7 separate regions of the Homo sapiens genome follow, and regions 1, 3, 4, 5, 6 and 7 are each linked to region 2. Evidence: fine-mapped expression QTL. A gene starts in region 2. Each other region holds a variant in brackets. All regions are shown on one strand. Distances are between the middles of the regions. Region 1 overlaps ESYT2 (extended synaptotagmin 2). Region 2 holds the start of NCAPG2 (non-SMC condensin II complex subunit G2). Region 3 overlaps NCAPG2 (non-SMC condensin II complex subunit G2). Region 4 has its middle 2.8 kb from the start of MIR5707. Region 5 overlaps ESYT2 (extended synaptotagmin 2). Region 6 overlaps DYNC2I1 (dynein 2 intermediate chain 1). Region 7 overlaps NCAPG2 (non-SMC condensin II complex subunit G2).

The links.
Region 1: its variant is fine-mapped to the expression of NCAPG2 in whole blood (INTERVAL, PIP above 0.99).
Region 3: its variant is fine-mapped to the expression of NCAPG2 in whole blood (TOPMed, PIP above 0.99). The same link has a PIP of 0.9 or more in blood mononuclear cells.
Region 4: its variant is fine-mapped to the expression of NCAPG2 in whole blood (TOPMed, PIP above 0.99).
Region 5: its variant is fine-mapped to the expression of NCAPG2 in whole blood (TOPMed, PIP above 0.99).
Region 6: its variant is fine-mapped to the expression of NCAPG2 in whole blood (TOPMed, PIP above 0.99).
Region 7: its variant is fine-mapped to the expression of NCAPG2 in whole blood (TOPMed, PIP above 0.99). The same link has a PIP of 0.9 or more in blood mononuclear cells, hippocampus, lung and nasal epithelium.

The regions. Positions count from the first base shown.
Region 1 is chr7:158,728,910-158,733,294 of GRCh38, forward strand. It overlaps ESYT2 (extended synaptotagmin 2), which reads right to left. Exons shown (of 23, transcript NM_001367773.1): 23 at 2,088-4,385. Among named protein-coding and RNA genes, the nearest start is that of NCAPG2, 26 kb to the left of the region's middle. The variant T/C (reference allele first, on the strand shown) is at 1,950.
Region 2 is chr7:158,702,274-158,706,658 of GRCh38, forward strand. NCAPG2 (non-SMC condensin II complex subunit G2) reads right to left here and starts at 2,531. Exons shown (of 28, transcript NM_017760.7): 1 at 2,451-2,531. RefSeq lists an enhancer at 1,292-1,870 and silencers at 2,448-2,547, 2,698-2,787, 2,908-3,187.
Region 3 is chr7:158,666,565-158,670,949 of GRCh38, forward strand. The region is part of intron 13 of NCAPG2 (non-SMC condensin II complex subunit G2); the gene reads right to left. Among named protein-coding and RNA genes, the nearest start is that of NCAPG2, 36 kb to the right of the region's middle. The variant A/G (reference allele first, on the strand shown) is at 1,950.
Region 4 is chr7:158,592,187-158,596,571 of GRCh38, forward strand. No RefSeq gene overlaps it. Among named protein-coding and RNA genes, the nearest start is that of MIR5707, 2.8 kb to the left of the region's middle. The variant G/T (reference allele first, on the strand shown) is at 2,003.
Region 5 is chr7:158,769,112-158,773,496 of GRCh38, forward strand. ESYT2 (extended synaptotagmin 2) reads right to left here. Exons shown (of 23, transcript NM_001367773.1): 7 at 4,230-4,285. Among named protein-coding and RNA genes, the nearest start is that of ESYT2, 58 kb to the right of the region's middle. The variant A/C (reference allele first, on the strand shown) is at 2,583.
Region 6 is chr7:158,917,828-158,921,827 of GRCh38, forward strand. DYNC2I1 (dynein 2 intermediate chain 1) reads left to right here. Exons shown (of 25, transcript NM_018051.5): 15 at 913-1,042. Among named protein-coding and RNA genes, the nearest start is that of DYNC2I1, 63 kb to the left of the region's middle. The variant G/C (reference allele first, on the strand shown) is at 1,721.
Region 7 is chr7:158,676,656-158,681,040 of GRCh38, forward strand. It overlaps NCAPG2 (non-SMC condensin II complex subunit G2), which reads right to left. Exons shown (of 28, transcript NM_017760.7): 10 at 4,066-4,161; 11 at 3,305-3,430. Among named protein-coding and RNA genes, the nearest start is that of NCAPG2, 26 kb to the right of the region's middle. The variant T/C (reference allele first, on the strand shown) is at 2,505.

The DNA.
Region 1 (4,385 bases), 27 kb after region 2:
AAAAAAAAACACATACACACACATGATGCTAAGAAAACTCACAGGACACCGAGATCAGCTTTCAACTGAGAAGTTACGGGGAGTGGATGTGAGCTGGGCCAGTCATGGTAAGAGCCCGCGTGGAGGTGCTGGGGAGAGGAGAGGAGAGGAGCAAGTGTGGAGGTGGGTGGGGCAGGAGCAGGTGTGGATGTGCTGGAGGGGAGGGGCAGACGTGGAGGTGCTGGGGGGAGGAGCAAGCATGGAGGTGGGGAGGTTGGAGCAAGTGTGGAGGTGGGGGGATTGGAGCAAATGTGGATGTGCTGCGGGGGAAGAGCAAGCGTGGAGGTGGGGGGGGAGGAGCAAATGTGGAGGTGCTGGGGGGAGGAGCAGGTGTGGAGATAGTGGGGGAAGAGCAAGCGTGGAGGTGTTGGGAGAAGCAAGTGTGGATGTGCAAGCGTGGAGGTGGGGGGCTTGGCGCAAGCGTGGAGGTGCTGGGGGGAGGAGCAAGGTGGAGGTTGGGACTGGAGCAAATGTGGAGGTGCTGGGGGGAGGAGCAGGTGTGGAGATAGTGGGGGAGGAGCAAGCGTGGAGGTGCTGGGGGGAGGAGCAGGTGTGGAGATAGTGGGGGAGGAGCAAGCGTGGAGGCGGGAGGGTTGGAGCAGGTGTGGAGGTGCTGTGGAAGAGGGGCAAGTGAGGATGTGCTGGCGGGGAGGAGCAAGTGTGGAGGTGGGGGCGTTGGAGCAGGTATGGAGGTGCTGGGGAGAGGGGCAAGTGTGGAGGTGCTGGGGGGGAGGAGCAAGTGTGGAGGTGCTGGGGGGGGAGGAGCAAGTGTGGAGGTGCTGGGGGGGAGGAGCAAGTGTGGAGGTGCTCGGGGGAGCAGTGTGGAGATGTTGGGGAGTTCCGAGCAGGTGTGGAGGTGCTTGCGGGGAGGAGCATGCCTGGGGGTGTTGAGTGGGAATGTGTAGGGGCCGTCTGTGGAACTGAGAGGCATTGATTGAGGTACAGTGGGTGAGGGTCCCAGAGGAAGAAGAAACACTCAGCTGCAGAAGTCAGGAAATGCTCTTGCTCTTGAACAGTGGAACACAGCTGAGTGGGAGTGATCTGTGTCTGAAAGATTCTCCTGTTGTATGGAAAATGGAGCAGGCAGGGGAGAAAGATTGAGAAATGGAGAGGGACGGTGGCTTGGACTGAGGGGACAGAGTTGAGGTGGCTACATTCTCCAGTTAGAGCTCAAGGACTTGGTGTCTGCACATGGGCTGAGGCAGTGGGAGGTGGCTGGTGCTGTCCAGGTCTCAGCTCCAGCACCAAGACGGATGATGGACAGACAGATGGACAAAGGGTGTGCCTTGAGGTGTCCATGTGACACAGAGGACGGGGATGCAGTGGGATGAACTGGTCCTGAGCTCAGACAACATCTGTATCAGTGACATACATCTGGAAACCAGGGTATTGATGGTATTAAGAACACCACATAAAAATAAAAAGTGATCAGAACCAAAACCCACATTATGCCAATTATTGAGTCTGGTTGAAGGTGAAGACAGTGTTGGAAAATGGCCAAAAATGTGCAAGGAAAATACAGAGGAAGGCGCTACAGAGGCCAAGAAGGATGGCCCACAGTCAAGGAGAAAGGAAGTGCCCGGTGTCAAAGGCCCACAGTCAAGGAGAAAGGAAGTGCCTGGTGTGAAATGCCGAGCGGCTACGAGGAAAAGCGCAAGGGCTCCACTCAAGTCGATCCAGACCACCAGTAATGAACGCAACAGGAAGGGATACTCCAGTATCACCCTCAGTGTTCCAATGTTCAGGTGTCTCGGCAGTCCCCGCTGCACTTCTCAGAGCCCTAGTTAAAAACACATTTAAAGTTTATTTTTTCTACGTATGATTATCCTTTAGAAGAGCTGTTTTTGACATGTGGAGTGTAATGTGCTGGGCAGAGGAGAGTCAAACTGAGCTGGGAACAACAGGAAGGA[T/C]GTCAGCTGCTCTGACGTAGCTGCTGGGAAAACGCGAGTGCAGACAGCAAATGAAACAGTGCACGACGTCTCCTTTCAAATTATCTGACTGCACACTGAACACCTCCCTTCAAAAGACAGAGAAAAACAAATCACGACTGAGCTAACATAAAGGTTTTATTGAATAAATACATGCACTGTCACGTGAAATTAGTTGAACAGAAAGGAGGTTCTCTACTTTTTAACCCCCATCCCCCACCGCTGTTCTCTATTTGCAGTGGGGGGTCCAGCTGGAGGTGGAATAAATGCGGCAACCACAGAAAAAACACACAGCTACACACAGGCCTGCATTTGGCTTATGTGCCTGAAAAAGAAGGGCCGACCTCTTGATAAAGAATGTCTGTAAAAGGAATTCTTACCGTGCAGAATATATTATCATGGTAAATACAGTTACAAGGCTGCTTCTATTTTATTTATTTTTTGAGACGGAGTCTCACTCTGTTGCCCAGGCTGGAGTGCAGTGGTGCGATCTTGGCTCACTGCAACCTCCGCCTCCTGGGTTCAAGCAATTCTCCTGCCTCAGCCTCCCGAGTAGCTGGGACTACAGGCGTGCGCTCCACCACCACGCCCGGCTAATTTTTGTATTTTTAGTAAAGATGGGGTTTCTCCATGTTGGCCAGGCTGGTCTTGAACTCCTGACCTCAGGTCATCCGCCCGCCTCGGCCTCCCAAAGTGCTGGGATTACAGGCGTGAGCCACCGCACCCGGCCAGCTGCTTCTATTTTAATCTGAACTTGGAAACACCTTCCTACTTTAAGGCACAGGATCAGGATAAGAACCCACATGTACGAGCTAACAGAGCTGCACTTCAAATTTACTAAGTTAATTAATTTTCCCTTCATTGGCTTGGCTCAAGGTAGAAAAGTTAAAATTCCCTTTTCTTAGATAAACTGATTATTTAAAACTGAAAATTAACGTTTTGACAACTCAAGAGTGTCTGACATCGCTGGGATCCTGGAGTGCTGAGTGTGGCCTCGATGGTGGCTTCACTCCTCCACATCTGGGAGGCACTTCAGTGCCTCAGAATCACCCCCTTTTTTTAAAAGAGAATGGAGGCAGCTACTGGAGGCCAAGCACCTCCAGGCACTCAAGGCCCTGGGGACAGCGCTACTGACTCCACTGCCTCAGGGCAGGCACGGTGCTGCTCTACCACTTCCTCTGGGCTTTGTACCTTTAATTGTGTCTACTCTGCCTAAGTGCTTAAATAAAGCATTCCATTAAGCAAAATACACATGGAGCGGATTACACACTGGACTGCAGAACTCAGATGTATGGGATGTTGGTAAAAATTACTGGCATGCTACAATTTCCATGAGTGCTGCTGCTTTATAGATTATGACAGAAGACTTTCAACAGACCTGATTTTTAAAAAACCCTCAACAAATCTAATACTAAGGGAAAGCAACTAGATTTAATGTTGTTACCTGTCTTCCATAAATACCATAGTTAAATGTTTTGTGTGCATACATGTTCGTATTTGTCTATAAAGGTATTGATACGCTTCCCAAATAATCCTATATACTAACATTGGAAATGGTTTATAAAGAGGCTTTACAGTCGCATGTCATTCAGCAGGAGGGAATATACTGGTCTTTATGATTACATGAAATATGCTGTGAAGCTACAGACTCCATTATAAGTAAACCCATGGTTCAAAGTGTAAGTTATAAATTGAAACAAAATCAAAATCTGCTAGAAGGGAGGGTGGGTAGACAGCCACCAGCCTTGTTTATAAATTCAAACAAAATAAGAATCTGCTAGAAGGGAGGGTGGGTAGACGCCACCCGCCCCGTCACAGGCACTTTGGTTTGTTTGGTCATGTGAGTTACCCACAAGTTGTATAGTTCCATGAAACAAGCTAAAAGCTCCAATTTAAATTACAAAGCTATACTTTCCTTAATATATTTACACATAGTTTTAAGATGTTCTCATGGCTATGGAAGCCATTTTCAGCATATAGCTTATAATATACACTTAATCGTCTACATATGTGCATTCTTTCTTTACAGACACACACAGCCTACGACACTGCAACAGAGCCTCACCTCACAGGAGGTCTGGGGGACTCTTAAGTACAGAAACCTGCTTTTAACAGTCTAAACAGGATAAAAATTGCATAACAATATCCCAATATTAAGGTCAGTCATGGCATAAAGTGAGGCAGCCTGGGAAGTGGCTGCTGAGAACAGCAGGGGCCGGGCTCGCAGCTGTGGCGCCCCCAACCCTGGTGGTGGCCAGTGCACATCGGCTCAAAGGTCCCACATCCTATGTGTGAGGTCACACTGGGGGTTCCTGACAATAATGAGATCGAGCTTTCAATTTTTAATGCAATATCCTGTCTACTCACTCCAATCTACCTCACAACCTTTAAAAGGACAACGTGTACCTTCCTTTTTTT
Region 2 (4,385 bases):
CTGAGTTGATTCAACAAAAGAACAATCTGATCCCAGCTGCAGATTCTGAAGATGCTCCCTTTCTAAAGGCCATTCCTCCATCAAAAAAATCCCACTGTTAGTGTCATCTTGTTATTCAAAGTGAGATGGAAAACAGTGGCCCCGGGGGTCACCTGGGATCTTGTTAGACTATGCATTAGGCATGCTCAACCACAGCACCCTCCTCCCACCCCTTCGGGATAATGAGAGCTCAGGGGACTTTGTATACCCTCCATCCTGCCTGTGTTTTTCCAGGAAATTCTATTTCGCATTCACAATACCTGGTGCTACTGGTGCCCTACTGAAAAAACATCAACCTAAAGATGAGGTAATAGCAAATGATGGAACACATTTGCAGTAGGAGCCCCCTCACTTTAAAAATAAATGAAAACCACCTGCACCATTATAAATAGAGCAATATGGAAAATTATTGCCAATAATTATGGGGACAGAGAGTCATCTTAAACATATAATACTAGATTTTAATGTCCAAATTGAACAAAGCAAAAATAACCTCAGTTTAATGACTCCCGAAATAAGTTAACAGTGAAGTCTGGTCATCTCATTCCTCAACTCAAATGGCTGAACTATGAACTACGGTCATGGACCACATAACATTTCAGTCAACAACAGACCACATGTATGACCGTGGTCCCATAAGATTATAATGCCATATTTTTACTGTGCTTTTTCTATGCTTAGATATGTTTAGCGATGCAAATACTTGCCATTGTATTACAGTTGCCTACAGTATTCAGTACAGTAACATTCTAGGAGCAGTAGGCTACACCATACAGCCTATGTGTGTAGGCTACACCTCTAGGTGTAGGCAAGTCCACTCTGTGATGTTCATGCAATGATGAAATTGCCTAACGACAACGTGTCTCCCTCTTTAAATCAAGCATGACTGGCACATTTTTCACTGACAAAGAAAATGGGGAGGGAAGGGAGAGTGGCCAGTAACAAGCATAATGAATAGTGGCTAGGACAAATTCATGATTTTAGAAAAATAATCCAATAAGGTGCAGCAAACACATGGAATCATACATCTTCGCCCGGCAAGTCTGTGAACACTCTCCACTTTTTCATAGTTCTGGTCACTTTTCTTGTTTGCTCTATTTCCAAGTGTACCTCTTTGGCATGTTAGTCCAACTTACAGTAATACACTTCCTCTAGACTACCAAACTTATTCCTATATTTCCCATTTTCCCTCTTATATTAGTGACTGTAATTTTTTAATGGTTAATTTTTCAATCTATCTCCCAAAGTGGCAATATTCCATGTTTCTTGTACCATATGTGCATAAGACCTCAGCCCTGCAGCCAGAATGCTACTTTCAAGGTAAGGAGTCATCTCACCATCCAGTTATCAGTCCGAAGAGCAGGTTACTCTTCGCACAGGAGGTCTGGTACTAAATCAAGATGAGCATTAAAAAGAAGAAATCCCTGTTACCTTCTCACCACCTGTGACTTCCCACTCCGTCCCCAAACTCCTTCCTCATGGACACAACAAGAGGCACCAAACCAGCAACAAGAGTTCAGGAGACTGATGTCTCTGAGGACAATGCCCACGTCCACAGCTGGGGAGATACTCTCTGAGGGCAGTGCCTACACCCAGGGCTCAGGGGGACTCTCTCTAAGGGCAGTACCGACACCCAGGACTGAGGGGACTCTCTCTGAGGGCAGTTCCCATGCCCAGGACAGAGGGGGTCGCTCTCTGAGGGCAGTGCCCATGCCCAGGACTGAGGGGACGCTCTCTGAGGGCAGTGCCCATGCTCAGGACTGAGGGGGTCGCTCTCTGAGGGTAGTGCCCATGCCCAGGACTGAGGGGACGCTCTCTGAGGGCAGTGCCCATGCCCAGGACTGAGGGGGTCGCTCTCTGAGGGCAGTGCCCATGCTCAGGACTGAGGGGGTCGCTCTCTGAGGGTAGTGCCCATGCCCAGGACTGAGGGGACGCTCTCTGAGGGCAGTGCCCATGCTCAGGACTGAGGGGGTCGCTCTCTGAGGGTAGTGCCCATGCCCAGGACTGAGGGGACACTCTCTGAGGGCAGTTCCCATGCCCAGGACAGAGGAGGTCGCTCTCTGAGGGCAGTGCCCATGCCCAGGACTGAGGGGACACTCTCTGAGGACGGTGCCCATGCTCAGGGCTGGGGGGTCGCTCTCTGAGGGCAGTGCCCGCGCCCGGGGCTGGGATTTTCCTCCGACACGGACAAGAAGGACGGGCGTCGCTGAGCTGGGTAGGGGGGATGGCCCGGGGTCGCCAGTTCCGTCCAGTTCCGTCAGAGGCAGCACTGCCCGCACGCAGGTCGGCCGCCTCCTTAGGGGAGGGGAGGCTGGGACCCCGACCAGCCGAGGAGGGGCTTCCCGCCCGATCCCTGCTACTTCCCAGCCCCTGCTCTGAACCCAATCCCGGCTCGGCACCGCAGCTCTTACCTGGGCTCGGGGACCCGCCGTTTCCCGCGCTCGGACCAGATTCAAACGCACCCGCCGGCGCCCCAGACGGGCCCCGCCCTCCCGGTCGTCATCAGGCGCCGCTCTCGCGAGAGCTGGGGCGCCGCGAGCCTCGGGCCTCGCCCACACGCCCGGCCCGCCCCGCCTCCAGATCATGCCCCGCCCACATGCCCGCCAGTCTTCTTCCTGTCTATGCCCCGCCTCTTAGGGCGCGGCCTCGAGCAGCTAAGCCCAGTGCCCTACCGGGCACTACGGAACGCGCACGCGGGGCGCCACAGCTGGGGAACCCATGCCCGGTCCGCGCGCCGACGTCCACTGCGCGCTCGTGCGCGTCCTGGGGCCTCCGCGGAGGGAGTGCGCGGTCCAGGAGAGGGCGGGGCGCTGCGAGCGGGCGGTGTTGTGGGAAGGAGGAAGGAGAGGAAGAGAGAGAGGGGGAGAGAAAGGAAAGGCTTGGGGCGGGGAGAGGCCACAGGGCCGTGTCTGGATCCCCGGGAGGACCCCACCCCGACCTGGCCGGCCCCCGTGACCGCCCTCCCTGCCGAGGGGGCACCTGTCCGGGTGGTCCGCAGCCTGCACACGGTAGGTGCACCCTGGGCAGGTGCTTCCCCCGCAGGAGCCCCTCCGGCCAGGTGCGGCCCCTAACAGGTGCTTCTCCTGCAGTTGCTCCTCCAGCAGGTGAGGCCCCCGGCAGGTCAGCTGCCCATAGGGTGGAGAGGGAGAGGCCTTAGCGGGGACCCTCGGAGGCACCCGTGTGAAGGAGGAGTAGCAATGTCATTCAATTCTTTGGACTTAAATGCCAAAATCACATACTGATGTATCAATCTCTTTTAATTTGTGTCAGCGAATAACTTGATTGGGCGTTCCCAATTTTTGTTGAAAGCAAATTCTTAGAAAACGGTGCTCTTTACCACCGAGCTCTGCATCCCTTCGTGAGGACTTGGCCTTCCCTGGAGCTATATTCTTTCATGCTTGAGATGTCTAGAGTGGTATCTGTTTTCCTGGCTTAACTCAAGCCAGAGGTCTTGGCGAGATTGAAGTCGTTGCACTGTGGGAGCACAGCACCAACCAATAGGAACATCATGGGAGCCACAAGTGCACTTGTAAATTTCTAGTGACCACATTAGAAAAATGAAGATAAATAGGTGACATTAATTTTTAAATATGTTTTATTTAGCCTAGTATATCAAAAATATTTATGTTACTTGTTGGAATATCGTTTCAACAAGCAATATAAAATTATAGCAGGGAGAAGACTGGTTTACTAGGAAGCTTGCAACAGTGAAGCAAGGCAGGCTGCAGAGGGGAGGGAGAAGACCCACTCAGAGGATGCTGAGTCTGGGACCCTTGTCAACAGGTGGCCGATATCTAACATTGCCTATTTCATCCTGGGGCTCCAGCCACCTCTGACCTCCTCCTCCCTCCATACACAGATCCTTCCCTGCCATTTCTTGAATTTTGGTGCCCTCATCTTCTCACTGCTTTCTTCTTAGCAATTTCCTTCATATCCAAGGTGCAAACTGCCACCTTCAAGCAGTGACCTCTGCATCTGGATTTGCAAGACACGGTTATTTCTGAACTCCAGAATTTTCAACAGCTCACTGCCTACTCCCACGCTGGTGCTGACATGCATCCAAAACAGATATCGACTTCCCCTCCCACCCCTGAATCCTGCCCCTTTCCTTATGCTGGTCCCTCCTCCAATCAGCCATCTGTTCCTGGGGTTTCCACTTCCTGAGTAGGAATAATGTAACAAGTTACGCATGTGAGCTCTGAAGCTGTACCACCTGGGCTAACCTGGTTCTGTGCTCACTAGCTGGTGACCTTTGACAAGCCATGGACGACTGAGCCTCAGTTTCCTCATCTATCAAATGGGACCTACTTAAGTACTGAGCCTCCTCTAGGGGGTTGTTATGAGGC
Region 3 (4,385 bases), 36 kb before region 2:
CTGCCTTTCATTATCACACAAATGCACAGATCAGAGCTGCACGGGCCACACACTGCTGAAGAAATAGAAGTAGACTTATTGGCTGGGCACAGTGGCTCCCGCCTGTAGTCCCAGCAACTCAGGAGACCAAGGCAGGAGGATCGCTTGAGGCCAGGATTTTGACGCCACCCTGGGCAACACAGGGAAACCCTGTCTCAAAAAAAAATAAATAAATAAAATAAAAAGAAGACAATGCATTGAAGGGAGAGGGTTGACATCTCCTGGCCCACTGGGCTCAGCCCAGCAGCCCAGGCCTACCACAGCTGACAAAGGAAACAAAGAGAAAGTATAACTCTCAATCCTTCTAGAGCTGCATGTACAAGACCCTCCACTGGGCCAGCACACCCATTACTGAGGTGTGCACGCCAGGCCCGGCAGCCTGGCTTCATGTGCCAGGTTGTTCCTGCCCATAGACAATGCCCTCCCGTCAGCTCCAACAGCTGTCCTCTGGCCAGCCAGACTGCCTCTTATACTCATGTCATTCTGTAACCTTAACTTTCAAGGGAAATTAGCTTGCATGCTCGTCACAAACCTTTCCAGACACCTCACAACCAAATGGCTGTCTGCCTTGCACTTGCAAAGATAAGGACTGAAACGCAAACGTTCTGCCTTCTTCCTCTGCTCTGGCGCCCAAACTTCCTGGTGGGCCAGAGACCCTGTGTCCCTCCGCCTCCCTCAGAGACCCTGTGTCCCTCCTCCACCCTTAGCCGCTACTGTGTCCCTCCGCTACTGTGTCCCTCCGCTCCTTAGCCACTACCGGATCCCTCCGCCCCCCCTTACCCACTACTGGGTCCCTCCGCCCTCCTTACCCACTACTGGGTCCCTCCGCCCTCCTTACCCACTACTGGGTCCCTCCGCCCGCCTTACCCACTACTGGGTCCCTCCGCCCGCCTTACCCACTACTGGGTCCCTCCGCCCTCCTTACCTACCCTGTGGCCCTCCACCCGCTTACCCACTACTGGGTCCCTCCGCCCTCCCTTACCCACTACTGGGTCCCTCCGCCCTCCTTACCTACCCTGTGGCCCTCCACCCTCTTACCCACTACTGGGTCCCTCCGCCTTCCTTACCCACTACTGGGTCCCTCCGCCCGCCTTACCCACTACTGGGTCCCTCCGCCCTCCTTACCTACCCTGTGGCCCTCCGCCCTCCCTTACCCACTACTGGGTCCCTCCGCCCTCCCTTACCCACTACTGGGTCCCTCCGCCCTCCTTACCCACTACTGGGTCCCTCCGCCCTCCCTTACCCACTACTGGGTCCCTCCGCCCTCCTTACCCACTACTGGGTCCCTCCGCCCTCCTTACCCACTACTGGGTCCCTCCGCCCTCCTTACCTACCCTCTGGCCCTCCACCCTCTTACCCACTACTGGGTCCCTCCGCCTTCCTTACCCACTACTGGGTCCCTCCGCCCTCCTTACCCACTACTGGGTCCCTCCGCCCTCCCTTACCCACTACTGGGTCCCTCCGCCCTCCTTACCCACTACTGGGTCCCTCCGCCCTCCTTACCCACTACTGGGTCCCTCCGCCCTCCTTACCTACCCTCTGGCCCTCCACCCTCTTACCCACTACTGGGTCCCTCCGCCTTCCTTACCGACCCTGGGTCCCTCCGCCCCCCCTTACCCACTACTGGGTCCCTCTGCCCTCCTTACCCACTACTGGGTCCCTCTGCCCTCCTTACCTACCTTGTGTCCCTAGGCCCTCCCTTACCCACTACTGGGTCCCTCCGCCCTCCCTTACCCACAACTGGGTCCCTCCGCCCTCCTTACCCACTACTGGGTCCCTCCGCCCTCCTTACCTATTACTGTTTTCTGTTTTGTTTTACTGAAGAGTTATTCTTTTTTTATAAAATAATGGTAGAGTGGTTTTAAGTGCTTATCTTTTAGAGATACATTCTGAAATACAAAGAAAACAAT[A/G]TGATGTCTGGAATTTATTTCAAAATAGTCCGGCAGTGTGGCCTGGATACAGTTTAGATAAAACAAGATCGGACATAGCAATAATTGTTGAAGCTGGGTGATGGGTGTATCTAATTCACTATATTAGTCTCTCTGCTTTTATATATGTTTGAAAATTCAAAATAAAAAATTAAAACAAAAAAAGTAAAAATATTCACAAAAAGTTTTCTCCAATAATTGCCTTAAAGTCTACTTTGTTTTCTGGGTTTTTTGGTCCAACTTTTAAGTTCAGGGGTACAAATGCAGGATGTGCAGGTTTGTTAAATTGGTAGACATGTGCCATGGTGGTTTGCTGCACAGATCATCCCATTACCTAGGTATCAAGCCCAGCATCCATTAGCCATTATTCCTGATGCTCTCCCTTCTCCTACCCTCCACCCTCCAACAGGCCCCAGTATGTGTTGTTCCCCACCATGTGTCCACGTGTTCTCATCATTTAGCTCTCATTTATAAGTGAGAACATGCGGTATTTTGTTTTCTGTTCCTGCGTTTGTTTGCTGAGGATAATAGCTTCCAGCTCCATCCATTCCCTGCAAAGAACATGATCTCGTTCCTTTTTATGGCGGCATAGTATTCCATAGTATATATGTACCACATTTTCTTTATCCAGTCTATCATCGAAGGGCATTTAGGTTGGTTCCATGTCTTTGCTATTGTGAATAGTGCTTCAATGAACATACGCAAACATATATCTTTATAATAAAATGATTTATATTCCTTTAGGTATATACCCAGTAATGGGATTCCTGGGTCAAATGGTATTTCTGCCTCTAGGTCTCTGAAGAATTGCCACACTGTCTTCCACAATGGTTGAACTAATTTACACTCCCACCAACAGTGTAAAAGCACAGAACTACAGTTTTAACAGGCTGTTTTAAAAAATGCCATCAAAATTGCAGCCAGTATTTTTATTGAAATTGACATGCTTGGCCGGGCGCAGTGGCTCACGCCCATAATCCCAGCACTTTGGGAGGCCAAAACAGGTGGATCCCCTGAGGTCAGGAGTTCGAGACCAGCCTGGCCAACATGGTGAAACCCCATCTCTACTAAAATTTAAAAAAAAAAAATTCGCCGGGCATGGTGGCACGTGCCTGTAGTCCCAGCTACTCAGGAGGCTGAGGCAGGAGAATCACTTGAAGCTGGGAGGCGGAGGTTGCAGTAAGGCAAGATTGTGCCATTGCACCCCAGCCTGGGTGACAGAGCGAGACTCTGTCTCAAAAAAAAAAAAAAAAAAAAAAAAAAAATTGACATGCTTACTCTACATTTTTTTAAGAGATAAGGTCTCACTATGTTGCCCAGGCTGGTCTCACACTTCTGAGCTTAAGTGATCCTCCCACCTCAGCTTCCCAAAGTGCTGGGATTACAGGTGTTAGCCACCTCACCCGGCTGTTACTCTAAAGTTTATATGAAATGCAAAAGACCTGAAGTAGCCAAAGAATTCTGGAAGAACAGCAAAGCTGGAGAATGCACACTGCAAGACTTACTGTAAGATCCACACAGAATAAACGGATCAACACAACAGGACAGAGTCCAGAAAAGGACCACACACATGGTCAATGATTTTCAACAAAAGCATCAAAGTAACTCAATTGCATATGACATTGGGTGTTAATACTACATTGGTCACTCAAAATATCCTTTGTTTTCTTCTAATATAAAAAAATTCACAGATCAAAACTCAAAACACACAACGTAATATGTACTACATTCAGTGACAAGATCCCCATCATTGGCTGGGCACGGTGGCTCACACCTGTAATCCCAGCACTTTGGGAGGCCAAGGTGGGCAGATCGCTTGAGCCCAGGAGTTTGAGACCAGCCTGGGCAACATGGGGAAACCTCATCCCTACAAAAACTACAAAAATCAGCCAGACATGGTGGCACACTCCTGTGGTCCTAGCCACTTGGGAGGCTCAGGAGGGATGATGGCTTGAGGTTGCAGTGAACCAAGATCACACCCCAGCACTCTAGCCTGGGCATCAGAGTGGGACCCTGTCTCCCCCTCACCTCATCACCCTAAGCAACTGACACTAAATTCTCGTTCTCTTCAAAGGATATTTTACCCATATCTGAGCAATATTTACTTATATATATGTCTCCATTTTATTCAGCTGGTAGCACACCAGGACCACATCTACACTATGCTTTTATACTTCCATATCTTAGAGGCCTTTCCAAGGAAGCCCGACAAAAAGTTCCTCCTTGTTCTTTTCATGGCCACACGGCACCACTTCTCTTATGAATACACAAATCTGTCTGGCTGACCCTACACTCTGGCGTTATCAGTCTGTTTCTGGATCCTGTGCCATAGCAGAACAGCACTCAAAGTAAATTTCTGAGAAGCTACTGTGTGGAGAAAGTTCACAATGGTACCAAATAATAATGAAGTCAAGAACA
Region 4 (4,385 bases), 110 kb before region 2:
AACGTGAACGTTGCCCACTGGTGACAAAGGTGAAACTGTTGGCCAATCCAATGGTTTTGTGTCAGTCAGTGCTCTGGGTTACATCAGAGCTGACCAGTCCTTAACGAGGACCAGAAAGTGTTTCAAATGGGGTGGCTGGGCCTCTGATTCTAAGAAACAATCTTGAGAGGGCTGGCATGAGAACCCTGGGGTGCAGTGGGGCGCAGCAGGCTTTGTTTGAATCCCAAAGGCCCACATCACGTGGACAGGACTGACCGGCTCCTGCGTGGCATTCTCCTCTTCAGGTTGAAGGCTGGGGCTCTGATCTTCCCATTTAACATTCTCTGTGGGAGATGCTGAGTCTCCGCTTGATCAGGAATGGCTTCATGAGAGGGATGGACTTCAGGTGAGGTTTTAGGGCAAGTGCAGATGCAACTTCCACACACTCCATGCTCAAGAACAAAGGTGCCTGAACATGTACTAATGAATACACTCAAAGTTACTCATGCTAGACAAACATTTTGGCTCTTGCTAAATGACATAGTGGTTCTGGCCAACCATGATGAAATTTGAATGACTTATTAGAACAGTCAAAACTGCCAGATTGGCCACTTTTAATTGGCCATTTTTCACCATTTAAACACAACCCAGGTCTAGTTGAATGGCAAATGCAGTGAGTCACCTAATCCCAGTCTGTGTGATGGAAAGTGGATGTCAGCCCATGGAGACGGTAGCTCAGTCTTCTGCTTATGATGTTGACTGAGCCCAATCTACAGGGCAAGAGCAAGTCATTCCTGCCCCTGCCGCTTCAGAGAAGAGTGCCCCACAAAGCTTCCCTCTGCTTAGCGGAGAGGAGTCAGGAAGGTCCATCACTCCTTGGTGTCTTGTCCTGTTGTGGACACCTCTTCCCTGCGGGAAACGTCCTGCCTCAAAAGGGTGACACTTCTGTTCAGTACCAAGTGTCACTGACTCCAGGGTGCAATTGCAGGGTGGGGAATCGGAAGCTGCACCCCCCCAAATGGAACAGCCCAAGGGGTTCACCTTGCCCACTGCCAAATTACCAAGACAGCATAATTGCAGTAGAGAAAGAGTAATTTACGCAGAGCTTGTGTGCGGAAGACTGGAGTTTTATTATTCAAATCAGTCTCCCTGAAAACTTGAGGATCAGAGTTTTTAAGGATAATTTGGTGAGTAGAGGCTCGGGAAGTGGGGAGTGTTGATTGGTCGGGTTGGAGATGGAATCAGAGGGGGTTGAAGTGGGGTTTTCTTGCTGTCTTCTGTTCCTGGGTGGGATCGCAGAACTGGTTGAGACAAATACCAGTCTGGGAGGTGTCAGCTGGTACATCAGAATTCAGGGTCTGCAATATCTCAAGCACTGATCCCAGATTTTACAACAGTGATGTTATTCCCAGGAGCAACGTGGGGAGGTTTAGAATCTTGCAGCCTCCAGCTGCATGACTCCTAAATCATAATTCTAATCTTGTGGCTAATTTGTTAGTCCCCAGGCAGGAAGGGGGTTTGTTTTGGGAAAGGACTGTTATCATCTCTGTTTCAAAGCTAAACCATAAACTAAGTTCCTCCTAGAGTTAGTCTGGCCTACGGCCAGGAATGAACAAGGACAGCTTGGAGGTTAGAAACAAGATGGAGTCAGTTAGGTCAAATCTCTTTCGCTGTAATAATTGTCTCAGTTATAATCTTTGCAAAGGTGGTTTTAAAAATATTGCTCCTAGACCCCAAATGTCTGAAGAATTGGCCTTAGCATGTTACTGTATTATCAATATTTTGCCAGTCAGCAGACAACAAAAAGGGGAGTGGAAGTCTGGACCGTCCATCTTGGGTGGTGTTAGTGTTGGTGTCGGTAGTGGTGGTGGTGGAAGTGGAGGTGATGGTAGGAGTGATTGTTACAGTGGTGTTGATGTTGAAGGTGTCAGTGTTGGTGGTGGGATGGTGGTGATCATGGTGGCAGTGATGGGGTGGCAACAATGGTGGTTGGGGTGACGGTGGTAATCATGGTGACTATGTA[G/T]GGTATTGGTGGTGGTAGTAAAAGTGATGCTGGAGGTCGTGGTGGTGGTATTGATATTGGCAGTGTTAGTTGTGGTTATTATGGTGCTGCTGAAGGTGGTGATAGAGATGGTAATAGTGGTGATGGTGATTGTGATGGTGGTGGTATTGACATTGGCAGTATTGCTGGTGGTGATGATGGTAGAGATGATGGTGATTTCCATGGTGGGTGTGTTGATGAAGGTGGTGACTGTTGTGGTGGTGGTACTGATATTGATATTGTGTTGGTGGTGGTGGTATTGATATTGACAGTAATCCTGATGGTGGTACTGATGGTGATGGGAAAGGTGGTGGTGATTTTGACAGTGGATGTGTTGTTGAAGAAAGTGGTGATTGATACGGTGATGGTAGTGGTTACTGTGGTGGTGCTGGAGGGTGGTTGTAGAGATGATGTTAAAGATGGTGATGGCAATGGTGGTGAAGCTGGTGGTGATACAGATGGTCATGGTGGTAGTGGTGGAGCTGGTGGTGATGGAAGTGGTCGTGGTGGTTGATATGGTTTGGATCTGTGTCCCCACCCAAATCTTATGTGGAATTGAAATCCCCAGTGTTGGAAGTGGGGCCTGGTGGGAGGTAATTGAATCATGGGGGCAGATTTCCCCCTTTGGTGCTGTTCTCATGATAGAGTTCTCACAAGATCTGGTTGTTTAAAAGTGTGTAGCACCTCCTGCTTCTCTCTCTCTTCCTCCTGCTCTGGCCATGTAAGATGTGCCTGCTTCCCCTTCACCTTCCACCGTAATTGTAAATTTCCTGAGGCCTCTCCAGCCATGTTTCCTGTACAGCCTACAGAACCATCAGCCAATTAAACCTCTTTTCTTTATAAATTACTCAGTCTCAGGGGTTTATGGCAGTGCGAGAATGGACTAATACAGTGGTGGTGGTGGAGGTGGAAGTGGAGGTGTTAGTGGTGATGAAGCTAGTGGTGGTAGAGATGGTGATAATGGTGGTCATGGTGGTGGAGGTGGAGCTGGTGATGATGGAGGTGGAGGTGTTAGTGGTGGTGACGCTGGTGGTGGTGGAGGTGGTGGTAGAGGTGGTGATGGTGGTTATGGTGATGGTGGCGAAGTTGTAACAGAGGTGGAGCTGGTGGTGATGGAAGTGTCAGTGGTGGTGATGCTTCTGTCTGCACATCCCCTTTCCCATTTAGGCAAACAGCACTGCCATTTTTATCTGTGGGACTTCTGCCCTTGAACCCTTTTCCCTCAGGACAGGCCACCTGGTAAAGGCTCATGGCATATGCAGGCCAGCAAATGCTCTCTCCCTAGGATGTGAGTCATGCATGGAGTGACACAGGAGGAGATGACCAGAGCTGCCTCAGGCCTGCAGCAGCACCCGGGCCTACCTGTATTAGTTCGTTCTCACACTGCTATAAAGAAATACCCGAGACTGGGTAATCTACAAAGAAAAGAGGTTTAATTGACCAGCAGTTCCTCAGGCTATACAGGAAGCAAGGTGGCCTGTGCTTCTGGGGAGGCCTCGGGAAACTTATAATCATGGTGGGAGATGAAGGGGGAGCAGGCACGTCTTACGTGGCTGGAGCAGGAGGAAAAGAGAGACGGGGAGGTGCCACACACTTTAAAACAACCAGATCTCACAAGAACTCACTGCTGCCAAGACCACACCAAGGGGGATGGTGTTAAACCATGATAAACCACCTGCACGATCCAGTCACTTCCCACCAGGTCCCACCTCCAACAGTGGGGATTGTAATTCAACATGAGATTTGAGTGGGGACACAGATACAAACCGCGTCACTGCCAATGAGTGCCGAGGCCTGAGTCCCATGCTCAGGTCTGCATCTGCATCTTTTCCTGACTCTGGGGGCTCCCTACCTTCCAATAAAGTCTTTTGTGGGCCCAGCTGCCAGACCCTTTCAGTCACCTGCATTGAGAGACTTGGTGACCTATGTAAGTCGGCAGGCCTCAGTCTTACTGTTATTAATAAACAGTCCAGCCATTGGTCATAAGAAAAATATCTAATTCCATAAAGCACTGACTAGGTGCCAGTGATTATGACAATAGTTAGGCGCCATTCTCATTCACATTCCACACATGAGGAGACCAAGGCTGAGGTCTAAATCATCTTCCCAAGACCCCCACAGCCAGTAAGTGCTGGGTTCAGGGTTCAAATCCACTCGGTCTCACTCCAGAGTTCAAGGTCCCATTCTTGCCATCCCAATTCACCGAATTCTCCATTTGTGGATTCTATTAGCCTGAAGCCAGCACTTCTGAGGCCTCCTAACCCTAGCTGGGAGGGCAGCCAGCCCACTCAGCGGGGAGGTGACTGGCTATTATTCAGGGTGTGGGTGCAGAGGTGTCTGGCATCTGAGGCATTTTGTTGCTTCT
Region 5 (4,385 bases), 67 kb after region 2:
CAACAAATAATGCCCAACCACCCACTGCAAGACAGTATCCACGTGTGATGACCCAGCACCTCAAGGACTTTTCAGTTTAATATGGGAAAAAATTTTTTAAATCCCCAAAAGAAAAACCATATGTAACACTACTCTACTTATGAACAGGTCAGTTATTCAGACAGTTAATACTTCCACAGAGATTCGGAGGGCTTCAGCCAGCAGACACTGGCTGTGTGTTCACCACGCAGAGGCAGGACCCACCCACCTTTCTCACACACAGACTCCTGGCCTCGGAGGCCACAGCAGCTCTGACGGAGCTCCCTGGCGGGGCTCCCCTCACTGCGCCTCCTCACCCCACTACACCCTGCATGTCCCCGAACTGTGGATGTGGATGCTGCTCCCCTAGGTCTCCACAGAAGCGTCTATTGAAGTGGTTACTTTCTTGGGAGTCACTATTTCCCTGTGTGTCCTTCGGAACCACGACTACTCATCACCCGTATTTTGTTTCCACCATAATCTTCACCCTTCTTAAACCTTCAACACTCAGCTTAGAGACGCTTATCAAAACATAACGGATATTTAATCATAATTTTCACCCTTCTTACGACTTCAACACTCAGCTTAGAGCCGCTTATTAAAACACAATGGATATTTAATAGGGATAGCCCAAAGTTATGGTGTAGTGAAGGAATTCAGGCATTATTCTTACTCTATAATGTCTGGGGTTTCTTTTTGTAATCAATTAATATAACATGTGGATGCTCATTTTATAAAGCTTGGGACAAGATTTCATTATGTTAAGTTCATGGTTATTTATTTATTTATTTTTTTAATTAATTTATTTTTTTTGAGACAGAGTCTCATTCTGTTGCCCAGGCTGGAGTGCTATGGCATGATCCTGGCTCACTGCAACCTCCACCTCCCGAGTAGCTGGGATTACAGGTGTGTGCCCACGCCCAACTAATTTTTGTATTTTTAGTAGAGATGGGATTTCACTATGTTGGCTAGGTTGGTCTCAAACTCCCGACCTCAGGCGATCCACCCGCCTCAGCCTCCCAAAGTGCTGGGATTACAGGTATGAGCCACCGCGTTCAGCCTCATAGTTATTTAATATTCACTTTTATAACCTAAGGGTTGCCATAGCTGTAATTTATCTGATAGAAAGACTGACAACTAGTAGCCCCAATTTTACGTACATATCTATTAAATTTTAGTACATAACATTTATGTAAACATAATTTATTATATAAAATCTACATAATTGTGCATAAATTATATATACCTATATATATAAACTTAGAAAAGATATTTTTACATTTCCCTTTTATACAACAGCCTGTTTTTTGAATGGTGTTTGTGTATTTATCTGTTAGGTAAGTATATATTTTTAATGACATAATTATACATATACGATTATATATATATATATTTTTTTTCCTGAGACGGAGTCTCACTCTGTCGCCCAGGCTGGAGTGCAGTGGCGCGATCTTTGCTCAGTGCAAGCTCCGCCTCCTGGGTTCACGCCATTCTCCTGCCTCAGCCTCCCGAGTAGCTGGGACTACAGGCGCCTGCCACCATGCCCGGCTAATTTTTTTGTATTTTCAGTAGAGACAGGGTTTCACTGTGTTAGCCAGGATGGTCTCGATCTCCTGACCTCATGATCCACCTGCCTCGGCCTCCCAAAGTGCTGGGATTACAGGCGTGAGCCACCGCCCCTGGCCTTATGATTATATTTTTGTATTACATATATAAAATCTACATATAAAACAAGAGAAGCTGGATGCAGTGGTACAAGTCTATAGTTCAGCTACTTGGGAGGCTGAGGCAGGAAGATCCCTTGAGCCCAGGGGGTTGACACCAGCCTGAGAAACAGAGTGAGATCTATCTCTGAAAACAAAATGAAAAATAAAAATAAAATAGCTAGAAATGACTACTGTATAAAAAGAGCCTACATAAAAATTATTAAATAGAATGGAGCTATACATGTATATTTATCTCTGTATTTACGTGTGTATGTGTGAATGACTTTTAAATAAAATGAATCAGGGGATCAACTTCCCCAAACTGTAGGCTTGCCGGGGCAGAACACATTCTCTGACTGCCCTTTCAGGTTGCCAGTATTAATACAACGTTGTTTACAGAGTAGATGTTCAATAATGCTGTTTTATTTCAGTCCTCCTATGATACTGAAGGGAGGCAAAATCAAATACTTTTTTCTACACTGATGTGTGTGGATGTTTGTTCCATTTGGCTAAACAGTATCTCCTCCCCCTATTTCTAGAGAAAGTTTTTGCTTTGGGGGATGCCCCCATTCACTGGAATTTCCATTTCTTTGCCTTCTGTAGGGGTGTATGTGAGATTGAAACCTGATCATCGGAGTCGCAGGAATCTGTCCAAGGGTGGCCCTTGCACACACAAGTTGGGCGGGGACCTAGCGGGAAAGGCGACTAAGTCCGCAGACTAAATGCTTGTAGCTGCAGGCACAGCAAGAGACTGCCTGAAAACAAGCCCACGAGGGACACGCCCACCCTGCATGGGTGGGGAGCTGGCGAGAGAGCCCTTATGGTGCCCAACACCGGCTCCATCTGAAGTCCCTCAGA[A/C]GACACGCCAGCTTTCCAGCTGCCGAGCAGGAAACAAGCACAGCTGTGTCCCATGCACGAGCGGCTGCAGCTAGCTCAGAGCAGGCAGTGGGCGCCCATTGTTGGAAGAGTGAATAAACTGCTTTTTGAAAATATTATTTACTGGCCGGGTGCGGTGTCTCATGCCTGTAATCCCAGCACTTTGGGAGGCCGAGGCAGGCAGATCACCTGAGCTCAGGAGTTCAAGACCAGCCTGGCCAACATGGCGAAACCCCATCTCTACTAAAAAAATACAAAAATTAGCCAGGTGTGGTGGCGCGCACCTGTAATCCCAGCTACTTGGGAGGCTGAGGCAGGGAGAATTGCTTGAACCTGGGAGGTGGTGCTTGCAGTGAGCTGAGACTGTAACACTGCACTCCAGCCTGGGCAACAGAGTGAGATTCCATCTCAAAAAAAAAAAAAGAAACTTACTTATTTACCTACTTAAGACCACTTAAGTCAGGTTTGTTGCTTGCAACCAGAATCTTAATGAACTCTTTAACCAATCTTTTAAAGTTGTGCTTTCTTTCCGCAGATCTTTTAAAGATCACAGCATTTTTCTGCATCCAGTAAACCACAGCACCTAAAAAGGACTTTCATGATGACTGTGCTTCAGATAATTAAAGTCCTAATTTTTCCCTAATAATGAAACAAAACTCTTTAGAAAGGCCATTTCAGAGGCATAAACAAATATATGAGAATAAAAAAATAGTCTGAAACCAAGTTTCATAATTTTCTAAACTATTTTAGGGAAAACAAATCACACTAGAAAATATCCACTAGAAACATATAACTTTAACCCACAGGTGATATGTTTTAACTTTCAAATAAAACGGTAAAGCCAGCAAAAGCATTTAGAGGCTGTAATTTCAAAACTTCCTATTTGGAGGTGACCAACAGGTCTGCCACCCACAGCCCCACGCACTGTTTCAGGTAATGGCACCACGGCAACTAGAATGACTCCTTGTCTCTAAGCAGGGATGCACCCTCCAGGGCCTCAGATGCTTGTTATGGAACATTTTTCTCCTGTTTTAGACACTAGATCACTACGGAATAATGAAGGGACTCCCAGTGAAATGATACGGAACTTCAAGTTCCTCACCTCTCACACTCAAGAGTTCTGGCGAAGTCCAGAAGTCCACACTGTCCCCAACCCATTTCAAAAAGGAATGGAATAAAAGTTAAAAAAAAAAAAAAGGCAGAAAGGGTGGGGTAGCCATAGGCTGGAGAGACCCTGGAAAGCATTTCCTTTTAAAGTTTCCTTTATTGTTTCTGAGAAGATTAAAAAAAAAAATTTGCAAACTGTTTTTACAAAATATTAAAAGACCTCTACTTTTCGAACATGCCAAGGCCAGGAAGACACCTTGTGGTGAACAAACGCAAATGAAGACTGCGTCCTCAGCTGGCACTCCAGAGCCCTCCCGCCCTGGCCCATCGCCTCCCAGCAGCTCCCGGCAGGCAGAACAAAGCCCCTGTACCCTCTGCTTGTTTCTCACGACAGCCTGTGGAGAAGGCACCCATTCACCTGGCAGACGCAGGTCTTAACCATTCTCACACTATTGTCAAGACATCCAAAATGCACAACACGCCCTCGAACGCTAAGCCTCCGGGACCAGACACGAGACTTACTTCAATCCAGGGACATCCAGAAGATTCGTCAGTCCTGTCCAGTTAATTTCTAAAAGCTGTTTTAAAACAAGGGCAAAATATTAAGTTCCAAACAATTTCCAATTATTGAATCAGGTGCACACAGGCTTGTTTCTTTGTAGACAAAATGGGTTAGTA
Region 6 (4,000 bases), 220 kb after region 2:
ACATTTTCTTCCTTCTTCACACCCATCCTGTCAGTCCTCACTACACATTCCCTTTCTCACACGAATCCTATCAATTCTCACTCAACATTTCCTGTCTCTCACTCTCCCGTTCTGTCAGTTCACATGAAACATTCTCTGCCTTCCTCACTCCCATACGGTTGGCTTTCACTGTCTGTTTCTGCCTTCCTCACTCTCACACAGTCAGCTCTCACTCAACATTTCCTGCCTCCCGCCCTCCCATATTCTGTCACTTCTCACTCAGTATTCCCGGCCGTCCTGACCCTGAGTGTTCCCGGGTCATGTCAGTTCCCAATGAACACTTCCTGGCCTCCATTCTCACTACGCAGCTCCCTCTTCCTCGCACAAATCCTGTTGCTTCTCATTCAACACTCTCTGCCTTCCTCACTTTCCTTGTGTTAGTTCTCAGGAACATTTCCAGTTCTTTTTCCATCAATCCTGTTTTGTCTCCCAATCTTCTCTTTCTGCCCTGTCAAATCCTAAGGATGACCCTCCTGGAACAATGACAGTGTTTTACCACTCACTCTGGCTTTTTACCAAAACCCAGTGAGAGAGACTCGGTGGGTTCATGACTGCTCTTTACACTGCTTTGTTCATTTATGAATGCTGGATACCCAGCCCCCTTTCTCCCACTGTGATTTTTAGCAGTGTATGTGGTGTGAAAAACAACATTCAGGGCAAATGATGATTCTCCTGTGGAGTTTTAGTTAATCTTACTGTATTAGTTTTCAGTATTGAGCAGAAAGGACCGTATCGTTTTTCTTGTAGTTATGATAGCGTCATGGATCTAAGCAGTTATTTGCAGATATGGATAAGATGAAAAGGTAATTTTTTTTTGGAAAAGATAATCCATTGTGAAGTTTTTATTAAAGACTACTCACTTATGTCTGACAGGTGATGGCCGTTTTGCTGGAAGAGGATCGCTTGGCAGCTGAACCCAGCTGGAATCTTAGGGCTCAAGACAGGGCCCTGTATTTTAGTGACAGCTCATCTCAGCTGAACACCAGTCTACCATTCCTTCAAAGTAAGAGGCTGTTCTCAAATATGATTTTAAATCCAGTGACTAAACATTCATGTTGAAATAATACTCTGTAGTATAATATTTTATTTTAATGTGATGGGGTTTAATGTACATAAAACTGAGAAAGACTGAGTTTCTGCAGAATTCAAAAGTGAGTGGTTTTTCCCTCTTAAGTGTGCATGTTAAATTTGTGATTAAGGATTTTAGTAAGATGAATAGAAGAGGGATCCACAGTAATTTAAACATGTGAGATTGTTTGAATGAATGGGAACTGAGATTTTCTATGTGTTTGAAATCCTGTTTTCTTTTCTCTTCCAGTTATTCAGTTTCTTTTCTTGAGATAGAGTAGTAGAAATAGTTGGACGAGCATGAGAGAGTGTTCAGATCAAAGTTGTGTTAATAGTTTAGATATAGTTACAAGCAAGACGCTTAACATTTAGTGTAGATAGACTTAGATTTTTAGGTCAATCCGTGGTTATGGAACATAAAACGGGAAGCAAAGCCCAGGATCTCAAACAGAAAGTACAGTTGCATGTAACTGTTTAATCAGTTCAGACAAACTGCATTTGCAAGACCAAACTGAAATTTCTTGAGCTAGTAACCTCTTTGTCTCTGAAAAAGTGGCTGTCGGGTACCGGAGGGCAGCCATGGTCCCGGTTTTTGTGGAGAACCAGCAGAGGT[G/C]GTCCGTGTGGCCGTCTGCTTGGTAGCAGGTGCGGGTGTGCTGCAGGGTAAACGTGCTTCGGGGCACGTGTGAGACCAGAGCAGTTGGTGCCACTGTTCCAGGCATTTCTTCCGTCCTGCCTGCTATTTAGAGATTTCAGTTTATTTACATTTCTCTGTCTTTTAACGTTAACAAAAATGGCATTGTTAATTTAACAAGTCTTCACATTCTTTGAGAGGGTTTTGTCTTTTCCTGTTAGAAAAATAATAAATCTCTGTACCTGTATCATTCAACACATTGGCATCCACACTCCCACACCCAGCAGACACCAAGAAGGGAACCGAGTGTGCGCCGCCCCCAGGGAGCCGACACTGAGCAGTGACAGCAGATGCATGAGAGCGGCAGTGGTGCCATGGCCTCCGTCGGAGAACACGTGAAGTGTGTGTGTGTACTGCAGCGCTGTGGCCTCCGTCGGAGAACACGTGAAGTGTGTGTGTGTACCACAGCGTGTGGCCTCCAACGGGGAACACGTGAAGTGTGTGTGTGTATGGCAGCGCCGGGCCTCCGTCGGGGAACACGTGAAGTGTGTGTGTGTACCACAGCGTGTGGCCTCCGTCAGAGAACATGTGAAGTGTGTGTGTGTACCACAGCATGTGGCCTCCGTCGGGGAACACGTGAAGTGTGTGCGCATACTGCAGCGCCGGGCCTCCATCAGGGAACACATGAAGTGTGTGTGTGTACCACAGCGTGTGGCCTCCATCGGGGAACACGTGAAGTGTGTGTGCATACTGCAGCGCCGGGCCTCCATCAGGGAACACATGAAGTGTGTGTGTGTACCACAGCGTGTGGCCTCCGTCGGGGAACACGTGAAGTGCGTGTGTGTACCACAGTGTGTGGCCTCCATCTGGGAACACGTGAAGTATGTGTGCATACTGCAGCGCCAGGCCTCCATCAGGGAACACATGAAGTGTGTGTGTGTACTGAAGTGTGTGGCCTCTGTTGGGGAACTCGTGAAGTGTATGTGTGTACTTCAGTGCGTGGCCTCTGTCGGGGAACACGTGAAGTGCATGTGTGTACTGCAGTGTGTGGCCTCCGTTGGGGAACTCGTGAAGTGTGTGTGTGTTGCACTTCCCACATGTTCAAGGAGTGGAGGGTCTTGTTTGCTTAGTTTTGTGTTCTGGTAAAATGAATATTGAGATAGCAGAAGGAATATGAGACTGCAAGAGAGGCATGAGACGGAGTGTGTGGGTTGTCTCACCCTGCGAATCCAGAATTTGACTCACATTAGATTCTGATCTGTGATCAGATGTAGAGATACTTCAGCCTTCCTAGGGTCCACCCAGTACCCTCATCACTATTAAAACACGCGGCAGAATGACACAGCCAGCGGGTCGTCCTCATCTCTATTAAAACACGCGGCAGAATGACGCAGCCAGCAGGTCGTTCATCTTGACAAATGTTCTGTAGCGGGTGCTATGCCCTGGGCACTGTCGGGGAGCTGCAGTTCAGCAGTGAGTAGGACGACAGCAACTCTGCCCTCCTGAACTTGTGTTTCGCTGGGTCAAGTAGGCTCTGCACTGGCTAAACAGGTCAACACACAGTCTATCAGAGAGGGGTAAGTTCTAAGGAGAAAAATAAAGACAGTTCTGATAGAGGAGGCCTCACTGTGAGTGAAAACCGGACGGAGATGAGAGACGGGCCACAGGGAGATGGGAGCTTCTGGAGGAGGCGCTGCACGCACACAGGTCTGAGCGGTGGGCACACCTGTGTCTTGGGTAGAAGCGAGGAGACCACGGTGGACAGTGGGAGGTGAGGTCGGGGCAGCGATGGGTCAGGCGTTGGTTGCCATATCATAGTTCCGCTGTAACAGGAGGTACACGTTCCTAAAAATCGCTACACCGTGGAAGACTGCCAATAAAAACCACAGGGCTTAGGAGAAAACGGGGTCAGGTCACAGCACTCGAGAACCTCATCCCACTAAAAACAACTATTAAATACGGCAGCTGGAAGAAGACCTGACGCTTGCTGGTGGAAGTGGCCCCAGAAGGCTGCAGCTATGAGCGATTGTGACGAGGTGGAAGGAGGGTTCCCTGGAATTGGAGGGGACGTTGTGACCCAAGCATGGATGGTGTGGGTAGCAGGATGTGAACTGAGGGGCTGATAGGTGTTTGTGGTGTGTGTGTGGCTGGGGTTGGCCGGGTGCTGCTTTCCACATTGACTTGGCGCCTGCCAGCGGTGCGGTCCAGTTCTTTGACTGAAGTTCTCGCCAGTCATGGACTTCCTATCCTCCTGTTTCACGA
Region 7 (4,385 bases), 26 kb before region 2:
TGAGTAAAACTGTGTTGTGGGCACACAGGGGTTATTACTCCAGTCTCTTTTTTATTATGCATGACATTTTCTATTAGAAACGTTGAAAAACACAACAGAATTCTTACTACTTTAATTAGAAAAAAAGATTTCAAGTTAAAATTAAGCATTTACCCCATCTCTTCCCCAAAATTTGACCAAAATGATCAATTTCTATTAGCAATAATAGAAACAAAAAGACTGAGAAATTTCTGTAAGAGAGGGAATAAGGAATAGATTCATGGAGAAAAGAGCATAAAAGGTTGTAACCTAGACATTCCTAGGTAAGGGTGCTCTAAAGACAGGAGGCTGTGACCTCAGAGAGCTCACATCAGCCCCGAACCCAGAGCCCAGGTTACAGAGAAGAGTTTGTGGCAAGGGCTGCAAACAACCCCTGATGAGGCATACAGGCCAGCAGGAGTTCAGGGGCAAGGATGTGCTCCCCAGGATAAAGTCTTACAAATGGTTTCTAAACCACGTGTGTCATCTGCCAGGAAGAGATACTGGGCAACAGACAAAGAAGAACAAAAAAAGAGCCAGCAATAACTCTAAGCCTCCAGAAAAGCAAAAGAAGGAAGAGCAATGCCACCCAGAAGGAAAGGGCCCTTTGTACTTGGGTACCGAGGGGTCACCTGCCTGCCTGCTCTTCCTCCACAGAAACTAAGGGAAGTCCTCCTGCTGTTGCACTCTGCCCATTTAGGCAAACCTGAGACATGACTCTACACAACTAGAGAAGAACACCTGCTAACTACCTTACCAACCCAATCCTTTATCCAAACATAAGAATGGAAAAGATGACCAGTCATTTAAGAAAAAGCAAATAGGAAGAAAAAAAGATGATAAAAATAAAGCAAAAAAAAAAAAAAAAAAAAAAACAGAAAAGAACTTTAGGAATCTGAAGGCCTGTCCTTGGGATTCAGAAGTTTTTATACATTTTGTTTTCTATTAATTACTTTCAATAATAATCTTTAAAAATAATAAAAATATATTCCAGACAATCACCTTACAACCACATCCTCTCTGGATTCAGTGTCCAGACCTGTTTGCAATTACACCATCACCAGAGAAGCACTCAAAATGACAGCACATGACTTGCAATGCTGTTTCTGTCGCATCCCTTCATTTAAAAACATTCAAAGAATCCTTTTCTTTTTTGAAACAGGGTCTTGCTCTGTCACCCAGGCTGGAGTATAGTGGCACAATGTCAGCTCACTGCAGCCTTGACCTTCCAGCCTCAAGTGATCCTCCCACCTCAGCCTCCCTAGTAGCTGAGACTATAGGCATGCACCACAGTGCCCAGCTGATTTTTTTTTTAATTGGTATAGATGGGGTTTCGCCATGTTGCCCAGGATTGCTCAAGCAATCCTTCTTCCTCGGCCTCTCAAAGTGTTGGGATTACAGGCGTGAACCACTGCACCTAGACCCTTTTTTATTTTAAAAAAAAAAAAAAGGTTCTCCATATTACTCAGGTTTAAGAAATACCAATAAAGCAAAAAGCATGAGAGAACAGTTAAGGTACACAGAGGATACAGGAAATAACCACTGCTCTTACTTATTTATCAGATCACCTCCTTTGTCTCCTCATGATAGAGCCTAATTTCCATCTAAAGGTTGAGTTAAAGCCTCAAGAGGTGCAGCACCAGGGACAGGAGCTCTCAGCCAGCTTTGGTGAACAATGCCGCAGGCCAGACCCAGCTGGTACCTGCTCCTACACAGCCCACAGTGCTAAGAATGGTTCATATTTCTTAATGGTTGGAAAAAATGAACAAATTAACATTTTATGGCATGTGAAAATTACATGAGATTAAAATTTTGTTGTCCACAAAATTTTTTTCTTTTTTTAAAATAAGAGTCAGGGTCTCGCTCTATCGCCCAGGCTGGAGTGCAGTAGTATAATCATGGTTCACTGTAGCCTTGACCTCCTGGGTTCAAGCGATCCTCCCATTTGAGGCTGCAGTGAGTGATGATCACGCCACTGGACTCCAGGCTGGGAGACAGAGCACGACTCTGTCTCTAAAATAAAATAAAATAAAATAAAATTTAAAAATAAGGAATCTTTAAAAAAAAAAAAAGGAATTGTAGATAAATATACATAATGTACACAGCAAAATACTAATGACTTCATTTAGGGATGTGTGTGTGTGCTTGAAGAAGTATACAGATATTTATTACACTTTTTTTTCTTTTTATTTTTTGAGACAGGGTCTCACTCTGTCACCCAGGCTGGGGTGCAGTTGTGTGATCATGGCTCACTGTAGACTTGACCTCCTGGGCTGAAGCCTCCCAAGTAGCTGGGACCACAGGCGTGTGCCACCACACCGGGCTGTTTTTTTGTTTGTTGTTGTTGTTGTTTTTAACTTTTTGTAGAGACGAGGTCTCACTATGTTGCCCAGACTGGTCTCAAATTCCTGGCCTCAAATAGTCCTCCTACCTTGCCCTCCCACAGCGCTGGGATTACAGGCGTAAGCCACTGTGCAGGCCTATTA[T/C]ACTATTACTTTAACTTTCTGCATGTCAGGTTTTCCATAAGTTAGAAAAGAAAAAGAAAAAAGGGAGCACTTCAGAAGCACCACAGGCAACAGCATTACAACAGCACTTTGTTGTCATTGTTTCCTAAAACTTTACTACTTAGGACAGTAGATAGTATGCACTGCTTAAGTAAGCTGTGTTAGGAAATACAGACTAAGTAGATGAAAAGAATCCACAATACTCCTTGGAAATAAATGCCGCATCTTAACATCCTAGCACCTCATCTGAAAAATCACCTGCCACAGGCATTATTTGTAGGCTTGCCCTGAAATATAACCAGTGTTTGCTCATTATGCTACCCAACACCTTTAGGATAGGCAATATCGCAATCACACTTACAGAGAAAGACACAGAGAAGTTAAGTGACTTGCCCAAAGCCACATACCTATTAAGTGAGAGTGGTGGACTCTGACCCCAGAGAGCAGGGGGCTGACACCAGAGCATGTGCTTTACCCACCATATGACACCACCTCTCCATTGGGGAAACAACAGGCATATGCATAAAATGTTTAAAACCACACATAGTAATAAATAATTAAATGTCCCAAAAGTAGAAAAAGACACCACAGGTCCACGCTGTTATAGAAGGCCCCAGGGAGAAGTGGCATCTCTCTGAAGAACAGTCCAGGTTTAGAAACCATGCCATGTGGGAGCAGAGCTCTGGCGGTTACAGGGGAGGTGGGGACACACACAAGCAGTACATGCCACAGCCTGGACAAAGCTGATATCTGTAAGAAGCTTGACCACCTGAAGTACGTACATAGAGCTCTTCAAACTGTTTCTGGATTTCACTATCCATTTCAATAGCATGAAGGTTTGGATCCCTAATAGGAAATGCTTCAACAAACAACAATGCAGCATTTGATCGAACTTCAGAGTTTCTGGCCTATAATAATAAAAGAAGAGTATCTCAGAATCCCAAAGAGTTAACATACGAAGGCTTAAGTACAGTGTTCCCAAAGTAACACTTTAATTATCTTGATACAGATTTATTTTCAAATTACAGACAATTATAACGTTTAAATTGACCAAACATTGCTCAGTTCAATGTCAACAGATACTATGAAAAGATAAAGCTTCCTCACTTCAAAGCCCACTTCATGTCACTAAGAAGTGGTCACCCCACATCCTCACTAAAGATACCAGGTTGTCTGCACTGAAAGTTATTGTGTGTTTGTTAGATCTCAAGGATCTGGACAGCCCTGGACAGCCCAGGCCAGCGCGGCAAACCACCCACAGCCTCAGCTGGTTTGCTTTACGGCATGCCTCTAATCTCCTTCCCTAAACATGGTTACTTAAAAATAACTGTGTAGTTAGCACTAAACCAATCCAGATTTCCAGTTAAATGAAACCAAGAAATGCTTTTAATAAAAGAAAAAAACATTTGTTCAAAAATTTCAGAAAGCATTCAGTCTTCAGCCTTATCTTTACTATTTTATTGTAATTTGGACTTAGAGTTTGCTAAATTCAAAAGCACAAGTAGTACATTCCAAACACGGATAAACTATTTGAAATGTATACCTTTAATCCTCTCCAAAGGATGGGCTTATATAATCTATAAAGCATCTCTTCCACTCCCTGCCGAACTTTCTTTTGATGGTGAAAGTAACTCAGAACCTAAGGACCAAAAAAAGGAAAAGGAAGGCATTAACAAAAAAATAAATAAATAAAATAAAATGGCATTTGGAAAGAGCAACAGGGAGAATTGTTCTCTCCACCACAAGTAGGCTCTGGCTGGCATCCACATGTCATGACAATTCTTCAGCAGGAGTAACTTCAATGGATATAGGACAGTAGTAAATGCAGTCAATCACAAGAAAGAATCTACGGCTGAAATAAAA